Linked DNA regions of Homo sapiens. The protein of the gene in region 1 purifies or fractionates together with the protein of each later gene. This does not show direct contact. Each region holds a gene or a part of one and is shown on either strand. Other genes may lie near its edges.

Evidence for each region. Proteins that work in one complex are often made in the same cells at the same time.
Region 2: the proteins of MIXL1 (region 1) and TBXT purify together in Homo sapiens (pull-down; one study listed by IntAct). This does not show direct contact.

Annotation. Positions count from the first base shown.
Region 1 is NC_000001.11:226,222,461-226,226,463, forward strand, and holds the start of MIXL1 (homeobox protein MIXL1), read left to right. Parts: upstream 1-1,203; 5' UTR 1,204-1,221; coding exon 1,222-1,614; intron 1,615-3,022; coding exon of another isoform or gene 3,023-3,046; coding exon 3,047-3,352; 3' UTR 3,353-4,003. UniProt on the Homo sapiens protein: Transcription factor that play a central role in proper axial mesendoderm morphogenesis and endoderm formation.
Region 2 is NC_000006.12:166,165,052-166,169,246, forward strand, and holds the start of TBXT (T-box transcription factor T), read right to left. Parts: upstream 2,801-4,195; 5' UTR 2,541-2,800; coding exon 2,335-2,540; intron 1,806-2,334; coding exon 1,541-1,805; intron 790-1,540; coding exon 655-789; intron 1-654. UniProt on the Homo sapiens protein: Involved in the transcriptional regulation of genes required for mesoderm formation and differentiation. Binds to a palindromic T site 5'-TTCACACCTAGGTGTGAA-3' DNA sequence and activates gene transcription when bound to such a site.

The sequences.
Region 1 (4,003 bases):
TGAAAGATCCTCCCAATAAAGATCTCCCTTTGAGTCGACCACAGTGAGTGATCCCGGTGAAATCAGCGCTCAGGTGCTGGGGGCAAAAAGACCTGGGCCTCTGTGTTCCTCTCTTGAGTTCTTGCACTGTGGTGGGGCAGTTCCCATAGTGGACCATGGGTTTCTCTTTCAATAAGGAGAGCTCAGTGACATCCAATTCGACAGACATTCACTAAGGGGCCTAGCACCGCGCCTCACGCAGAATAGGTGTACAAAGCAGACACTCAATAAACTCAGAAAGGGAGAGGTGGGTTCCTGCTTGCTAAGACTTTATATCTAGCAGATAGAGAAACCATAACCATAGCACAAAGTAGAGAAAATGGGAGCTTTCAGAGCCCCAAGGGGCAGAGGAAAGAATGATGATTCAGGGCGCGTGGAAACTTCATGAGGTGGCTTTCATCTCCTCCCATCCAATAGACGGGTCTTAAGCATTGTTGAGTATCTCCAGAAAGGCCAAACTGCGCCGTATCCTCTGCTAATGGGGCACGTTGCCAACCCCGCCCTACCTAGGGTATCTTTATTGGTGGGCCCATGGACATTCCAGCCAGACCCCCCCACTCCCCCCACCCATTTAATCAGGAGGAATGTGCTGCCCCCTGGATCCTTTATCTTCACCCCCCTCCCCGCTTGGATTCAGGATGTGTTAGGGAGGCTTGCAGAAGACAGGGGCCGGGCTGTTTGACCAACCTGGTACAGGGTCTAGCACATAGCAGGGGTGGTAAATAAATAGCTTTGATGAGGACAGACGGGACTAGGGCAAGGCTCAAGGCCCAGGCCATGTAAGGCACAGGCCAGGCAAGGTGCTTCCGCCGCTCTTAACGGGGATTTGACCCGGAGAAGAGAGTTCTGTCGCCTGCGGCCCGCGCACCCGGGCCCCTCCGGGCTGCCCCTCCCAGGCAAATAGTCCTTCGGGGATGTGGATTGCGCCGTCCGGGCGGGTGGGCGGGGAAGAACACGGAGGGGGCCGGGACCCAAGTTCACGCCTCCCTCCTGCATCCCGCAGCCGGCGGAAGCGATTATTCCCCGGCGTCTGGCGGGGCCGGGGGCGGGCTCGCACCCGGAGGAGACACGGGTCTCCCCGAGCCCACCTTTGATCGCACCGCCCCGCCTTCCCAGCCCCTGGCCCGGGAGGGTATAAGTGCGGCCCGCGCCCCTCCGAGCGGCGCGCTGGGTTCCGGAGCGATGGCCACAGCCGAGTCCCGTGCGCTCCAGTTTGCCGAGGGCGCCGCGTTTCCAGCGTACCGGGCCCCCCACGCCGGCGGGGCGCTCCTGCCGCCCCCGAGCCCTGCGGCAGCCCTGCTCCCTGCGCCGCCCGCGGGCCCCGGCCCAGCGACCTTTGCGGGCTTCCTCGGCCGGGACCCCGGGCCGGCCCCGCCGCCCCCCGCCAGCCTGGGCTCGCCTGCGCCCCCCAAAGGCGCGGCCGCCCCGTCGGCGTCGCAGCGCCGCAAGCGCACGTCTTTCAGCGCCGAACAGCTGCAGCTGCTGGAGCTCGTCTTCCGCCGGACCCGGTACCCCGACATCCACTTGCGCGAGCGCCTGGCCGCGCTCACCCTGCTCCCCGAGTCCAGGATCCAGGTGAGGGCCCGCTGCGTTCGCAAGTGCGCGCTGGAGCGGAGGCGCTGCGGACTCTAGGTCTGGACTGCGGGCTCCTGAGGCCACACCCGGGACGTTGCAGGCACGGTGCTTCCCCTGAGGCTCTGCGTACTAGACTGAAATAGGGGGTGATATCGGCACCTGCTGCATAGGGTGGTTGCGAGGCCTGTGTGAAATAATTTAGGCCTGCACTGAACGATTTCTCTCATTATTAAATATAATAAGGGCTCCTAGGAGGCTAGCCGGTCCCCTGAAATGGCCAGAAAGTAATTCCCAGCAGGAAGATAAGAAGTTTTACACTTTTTCTTTATCCGGGAAGAAGACACAGATGAGGGGCAGTTGGGGTTTTCCTCTGGCTTTGAGCGTGAGAATGGTAGCTGAAAACGGGGAAGGCTGGCTCGCCAAGTTACCCCCATGCTACTTTCTTGGCAAGTGTTACGTTTTGGGATTAGATTTGAAAGGATGTAGCGAATTGAGATAAAGCGAGAAGCACCTGGAGCTTGTTTTCAGTTTGAAAAATCTAGTGCAAGGTGTGTTTATTTTTATTTATTTAGTTTTTATTTGAGATGGAGTTTTAACTCTTGTTGCCCAGGCTGGAGTGCAATGGCGCGATCTGGGCTCACTGCAACCTCCGCCTCCCAGGTTCAAGTGATTCTCCTGCCTCAGCCTCCCGAGTAGCTGAGATTACAGGCGCCAGCCACCACGCCCAGCTAATTTTTGTATTTTTAGTAGAGACGGGGTTTTACCATGTTGGTCAGGCTGGTTTCGAACTCCTGACCTCAGGTGATCCACCCGCCTCAAAGTGCTGGGATTACAGGCGTGAGCCACCGCGCCCGGCCGTGTTTATTATCTAAAGTAATTTAGATCAGAATCTTAGAGTTGGTAAGGAGAAGCCTGCCTTTTTGTCTGTCTGTAGCCCCGTGGTCGGTGTCCAAGCGCAGTTTTAAGTAGCAGCCCTCATTTAAACACTGGGAGAGTGGACTTGTTTTCTCTGCACCCCTGGCGGTCATACAGCTGTCAGTCTCAACAGCTGGCATGAGCAAAATACCTCCTTGATTAGTTTGACAAGGGAGTGCAGACCTTAAAAAACAGGTTTTCTTCATAATTTAATGCAGTTTTTTTCTAAGAATTCTAAGTGCTTCCATTTTTGTGACCCCATTTTTCATGAAAATTTCTCTAACTAAAGAGTAGATAGAACTAGGCATTATTCCAATGTTTCCATCTGGGAATGGGGAGGCAAGGAAAGCCAGGTGTTCTGAACTTCTAATCGTCAACCCAAGTGCTTTCTGAAGACAAGGCTCTGGAGAGGAAGCCAGGGGATGTTAAACTGGAACTTACCAGTATGAACTGTGAACATAATGTTAGCATAAAAAACTCCAACCAAAAGCAGCTTTTATTTTCTCCCCTCTTCCAGGTATGGTTCCAGAACAGGCGTGCCAAGTCTCGGCGTCAGAGTGGGAAATCCTTCCAACCTTTGGCTAGGCCGGAGATTATCCTCAACCACTGTGCTCCTGGAACTGAAACGAAATGTCTGAAGCCCCAGCTGCCTCTTGAGGTAGATGTGAACTGCCTGCCCGAACCAAACGGGGTTGGAGGGGGCATCTCTGACTCTAGCTCCCAAGGTCAGAATTTTGAAACCTGTTCCCCTCTCTCTGAAGACATTGGTTCAAAGCTGGACTCATGGGAGGAACACATCTTTTCTGCCTTTGGTAACTTTTGAGGATTCTGGGAGAATTCGGGATAAGCTCTGAGGAGCCATGACTGACAGCCTGGGAGAGACACATCAGCATACTGTCCTTTCTGACTTCCATGCTAAGGACATGTCCTTGTTAACCTTGATGATGGTTTTGACAGCACCTCTCACATTTGAAGGTACCCCGCCACTTTGTCAATGACGTTTTAAGCCCACACTCCCACCCCAGAGTTCCCGCATTCGTTTTTACCTGTGTTCTCTCCAAGCCTGCACATTCCATTGGTCTGCATCCCTATGCCTTCTTGCCAGGCCTGTTTTTAGTTTTTGGACTGGTTGTTCAGAACTCATTATTTTCTTCACAAGAATGCCTCAGCTTGACTCAGTTTCCCCTTGTGTTTGACAGCTGCCATTTTCTCCTGGTCCCTCCAAGGCTTATAATCTTAAAGTCACTCTACCCCGTCTCTTCAACCCTCATCCTAGGTTTATTACTTTTTAAAATTGGGCCTGTCATCTTCACGTTCAATCATAGCTCCAATGACTCTGCATGCAGATTATTTCGACAGCCCCCTTGCCTCTAGCTTCTCAACTACTTAAAAAAAATTACCCTCTGTGGGCCAGGTGCAGTGGCTCACTCCTGCAATCTCAGCACTTTGGGAGGCCGAGTGGGTGGATCACCTG
Region 2 (4,195 bases), on another chromosome or scaffold:
AAATTTTCAATGTCAATGTTCTGAGTGGGATTCACAATAAATTTAACCTACTACTAACAATGTTCCATGTGTATAAATCAGAAATGGCTGAAAACACAGTCTGGGGCTGCTTAGGAAATAGAGACCTGGAAGTTCTAGTTTTCGGTCAACGTCAACACCAACAAGGTATCCAACTAATGTCGAATTTGCAGTACTTTGGGGTTGGGCTTAGGCATAGATTTACAGGCACCTATGCAGTAGCTTGTATCTAGTTGAGTCTTCACACTGCAGAGATTTGAGGGGTTGCCCCCCCACCCTTTGGGGAAGATTTCCAAGGAAGGACATGCCCCTCTCTCACTCAAGTCTTGTTCTCAAGAAATTCTCACACCATTTAACCTGAATGCTTTTTGGATCTTTTCATTTTGAGCATTGAGAAGTTGTTTCTAGTTTTAAACACTTGTATGGAGAATTCAAGGGGAAAATGTTTGAATGGGGACTTAATTTAAACAGTTCTCTCCTGTGCTTCCATTTCAAGTTCCGGAATATTATTTGAAAGGGCAGGAAGCCTTCCTCTCAGTGCGGGTTAGCGCGTCTCCCCGCTCCTCCAGAATCTCCACGGAGCAGCACACCACACCGCAGCACACCGGGAAAGCGATCCGCCTCTGTCCTTCTCACCTCCTCGTTCTGATAAGCAGTCACCGCTATGAACTGGGTCTCAGGGAAGCAGTGGCTGGTGATCATGCGCTGTGGACCCCCAACTCTCACTATGTGGATTCGAGGCTCATACTTATGCAAGGAGTTCAGCATGATCTGAGGGAGACAGATACAGGATTGGTGGCACTGAAAGGCCTGCGTTAAAACAGCAAAACATCCATTTCTCCAGGATGCAGAAAGTCCTCTGGATCCCAAGAAAGTGTCTCTGCTGTTGAGGGAAGTGGGGTTCCACCAGGGGAGGCTTCTCCGCGGTTTATATGTGCTATTCCCACAGCTTGTTTGGAAAAGGGATGTGAGATGCTACACACCATTAAAAGCAATGAATGCTCATCACAAAATCCTTTCACCTGGTGGAATAAAGTACTAAGGCTTTCAGGAAGGCTATGGTCATTTTTAAAAGACTGAGCTTGTTTGCAACTTGCCTAACCTGGGGTCTTCCAGGAACAATCCCCGACTAAAGAATGTTCTTTAGAAAAGCACGACTTTACAAGTTTGTTCCGACTCCACGCAGTAAGTACTGTGGCGCATGTTTAAATTTAAATGCGACTTTGCCATCAAGGCTGATATCTTTTCCACCCCCAGGAGAGTTTAGGGCTAGACAACGGAAGTTCCCCAAAAGCTCCAGTCCTTCAAAGGGGAGTGCTCCCGCTCCCCGTTCGCCAGGCGTGGATGTTATCAGCTTAGTATAAACAGCGCTAAAGGCCTTATTAGAGAAGGCTGTGGCAGTTTCTCCAGGGCAGACGTCGCCTCCCGTTCAAGCAGCGTCCCTTCCCACAACCCCCGTGCAGAAGGCGCAGCGCGGCCCCCTCCTCGCTGGTCCCAGACCTGGCGGGCTCCTCACACCTACCTGGCCCCCTCCGTTGAGCTTGTTGGTGAGCTTGACTTTGCTGAAGGAGACGGGAGCCTTCATCCAGTGGGCCCCGAAGTTGGGCGAGTCGGGGTGGATGTAGACGCAGCTGGGCGCCTGCGGCTCCGGCTTGCCCCCCGGCACCCATTCCCCGTTCACGTACTTCCAGCGGTGGTTGTCCGCCGCCACGAAGTCCAGCAGGAAGGAGTACATGGCGTTGGGGTCCAGGCCAGACACGTTCACCTTCAGCACCGGAAACATCCTCCTGGAAAACACGGGGCGGGCGCAGGAGGACCCCGACACTGACCAGGTAGGCCGGAGGCAGAAGCTGGGCACAGAGGCCTCAGTTATTTCGGGGCACAGAGGAGCCCCCTGGGGAACGTCCGAGGGTGACTCCCAAGCTCCCCCTTCCCCGAGCCCTGCCAGGTCCAGGTGGCCTCCTCACCATCTCCACGGCCTCGGGAGGGAGGGGAGGAGAGGACCTGGCGAAGGGTTTCAGTGCAGGAGGCCACATCCCGCGGGGACAGGCGGGGACCAGGGCGCGCCTCGCGGGTCCCGGGATGCCTCCGAGGTCGGGACACCGAAGTGCGCGTTCCTCCTCCCCAAGCTTCCGCGGAGAAAGCCCCAGAAGAGGGGCTTGTAGAAATGCACTCGAGGGAGTTAACCAGAGCGGGAACAAACACAAAGCCCTCCTCCAGGAGAAAAAGGGTTCGACCTCCGGGAACTTGCCAGGTCCCCCAGGCTGCCCAGGCGCTGGAGAGCGCGGCGCGCGCGGGCTCCGGACGCGCACCCACCTGCCGTTCTTGGTCACGATCATCTCATTGGTGAGCTCCTTGAAGCGCAGCCACAGCTCGCTCTCCTCCAGGCCCACGCGCAGTTCGCGCTCTGTGGGGTCGCCCTTCTCGCTGCCCGCCTGCAGCTCATTCTCCACGGCGCTCAGCAGGTGGTCCACTCGGTACTGCAGGCTCTTTCCCGCGCTCTCGGTGCCAGGGGAGCTCATCCTCCCGTCCGGCTCCCCTCCCCGCCGTCCCCGAAGCCCAGACTCGCTACCTGAGATCCACCTTCCCTGCTCTTGGCCGCCGCCCTTCCGAGAAAAGGGGCCCCTTGGACCGAGACCTGCGACGGCTCCCGGGTCCCGGGTCCCGGCACAGACCCGGGAGGAGGGCGCGGACCAAGACTTGGGGGGAGGGGACGGGGGCAGAGGGGTGGGGAGAAGTTATTCCACTTGAACTCCCCAAGGCTCTACTAGTGTAGGTCTCTGGGGACCGAAATTCAGTGCCCTCCCCATAAATAGAGCCGCGGCGGCAGCGCTGGGGTGCTCGGCGGATTGGGCCGCGCACGCTTTGAAGTGCCGGGCAGCCTCCCATTGGCCGAGAGCGGCCATATCAGACCCAGCCGGGCGGGTCTGGGAGGCCGGGGGCCAACAATGGGCTCCCGCACGCCTGTTTCATGTAAATCCGGGGCCCCAGCCCTGCGAGCCCCGGCCCAGCCCCTACACCCCCGCCCTTCTCCAAATGTTTGCACCTCCATCAAAGCGGCGGGGCAAGCCCCGGAGGAAGGTAAGCTGGACGCCCCGGCCTGCCCCAGCCCGCCCCAGCCCGCCCCAGCCCGCACTTCCGCGAGGGGCTGCCCGGCAGCCTGCGATGCTCCCTGATTCCCGCGCGGGGTCCTCCTCGCTTTCCCAGCGCGCCCGGATCCCGCAGCCGCGCCAGGCTGGAACGTTCGCGCGGCCTCACCTGTCCCCGCTCCAGGCGCGCCTCCCTCCCCTCCCAGGGACGAGCGCATTTGGCCGGGCTTTGGGATGCGCCGCGCTCGTCTCGCCGCAGTAGTAGTGCTGTTCTCGCGCCTCCGATGCCTCAACTCTCCAGTCTGGCAGTTTCCGGTGCACCTGTCCCCACACGTCCCTCGCCCACGGAGCCCCAGGCGGCGTTACGCACACCCAGGATCGTGGATCAGCCTGCCCCGGCGTCGGGTGTCCCCGCGGCTCTCACCATCTGGAAAAGGAAGGTCCGCGCGCAGAGAGGGAAATGGACGGAAATAAGCAAAAGCAAAACAACCCCTTCTGAGAAGTGTCCTCCTCGCTCTCTTATAAAAACAGGACTTGTTGCCGAGGTCAGCGCGCGCATCGAGTGTGCCAGGCGTGTGCGTGGTTTCTGCTGTGTCATTGCTTTCACGGAAGGTGGGAGAAGGTCGGGGCTGGCGGGGTGGTCCGGACTAGTGGGACTCGGGGCGCTTTCCCCGCCCGGCCCAGCGCCAAGCGGTGTCGGCAGCGGTTGTTTTATTACCTTTCGGTGAGAACTTACGCGAGGAGAGCGAAGGAGAGGTGACAATGAGCAGGAAATAGTTCAGTGGGGTCTCTTTAAACAGTAACATTCCTCCTAAAACGGGAGCCCAGGAAGGGGGAAGGAGGCAGAAGCTCCCCCTTCCAAGGCCTGGCTTTGCGCTTCTGCACACCTCGCCCATTCGCTGGACGAGGGCCTGCCTCGGGTAGCAGCCTCTGTTTCCCGGTCTCCTGAGCGGGCACCCCAGCCCCAACCCCTCTAGAGAAAGCCTGCGCATCGGGTGGGGCAGCGAGTTCAGAGGAGTCTTGCGCCCTAGCAAGGGGGCTTTCCCGCGGACATGGTATCTGCGCCCCGCGCTAAGTCTCCCCTGCCC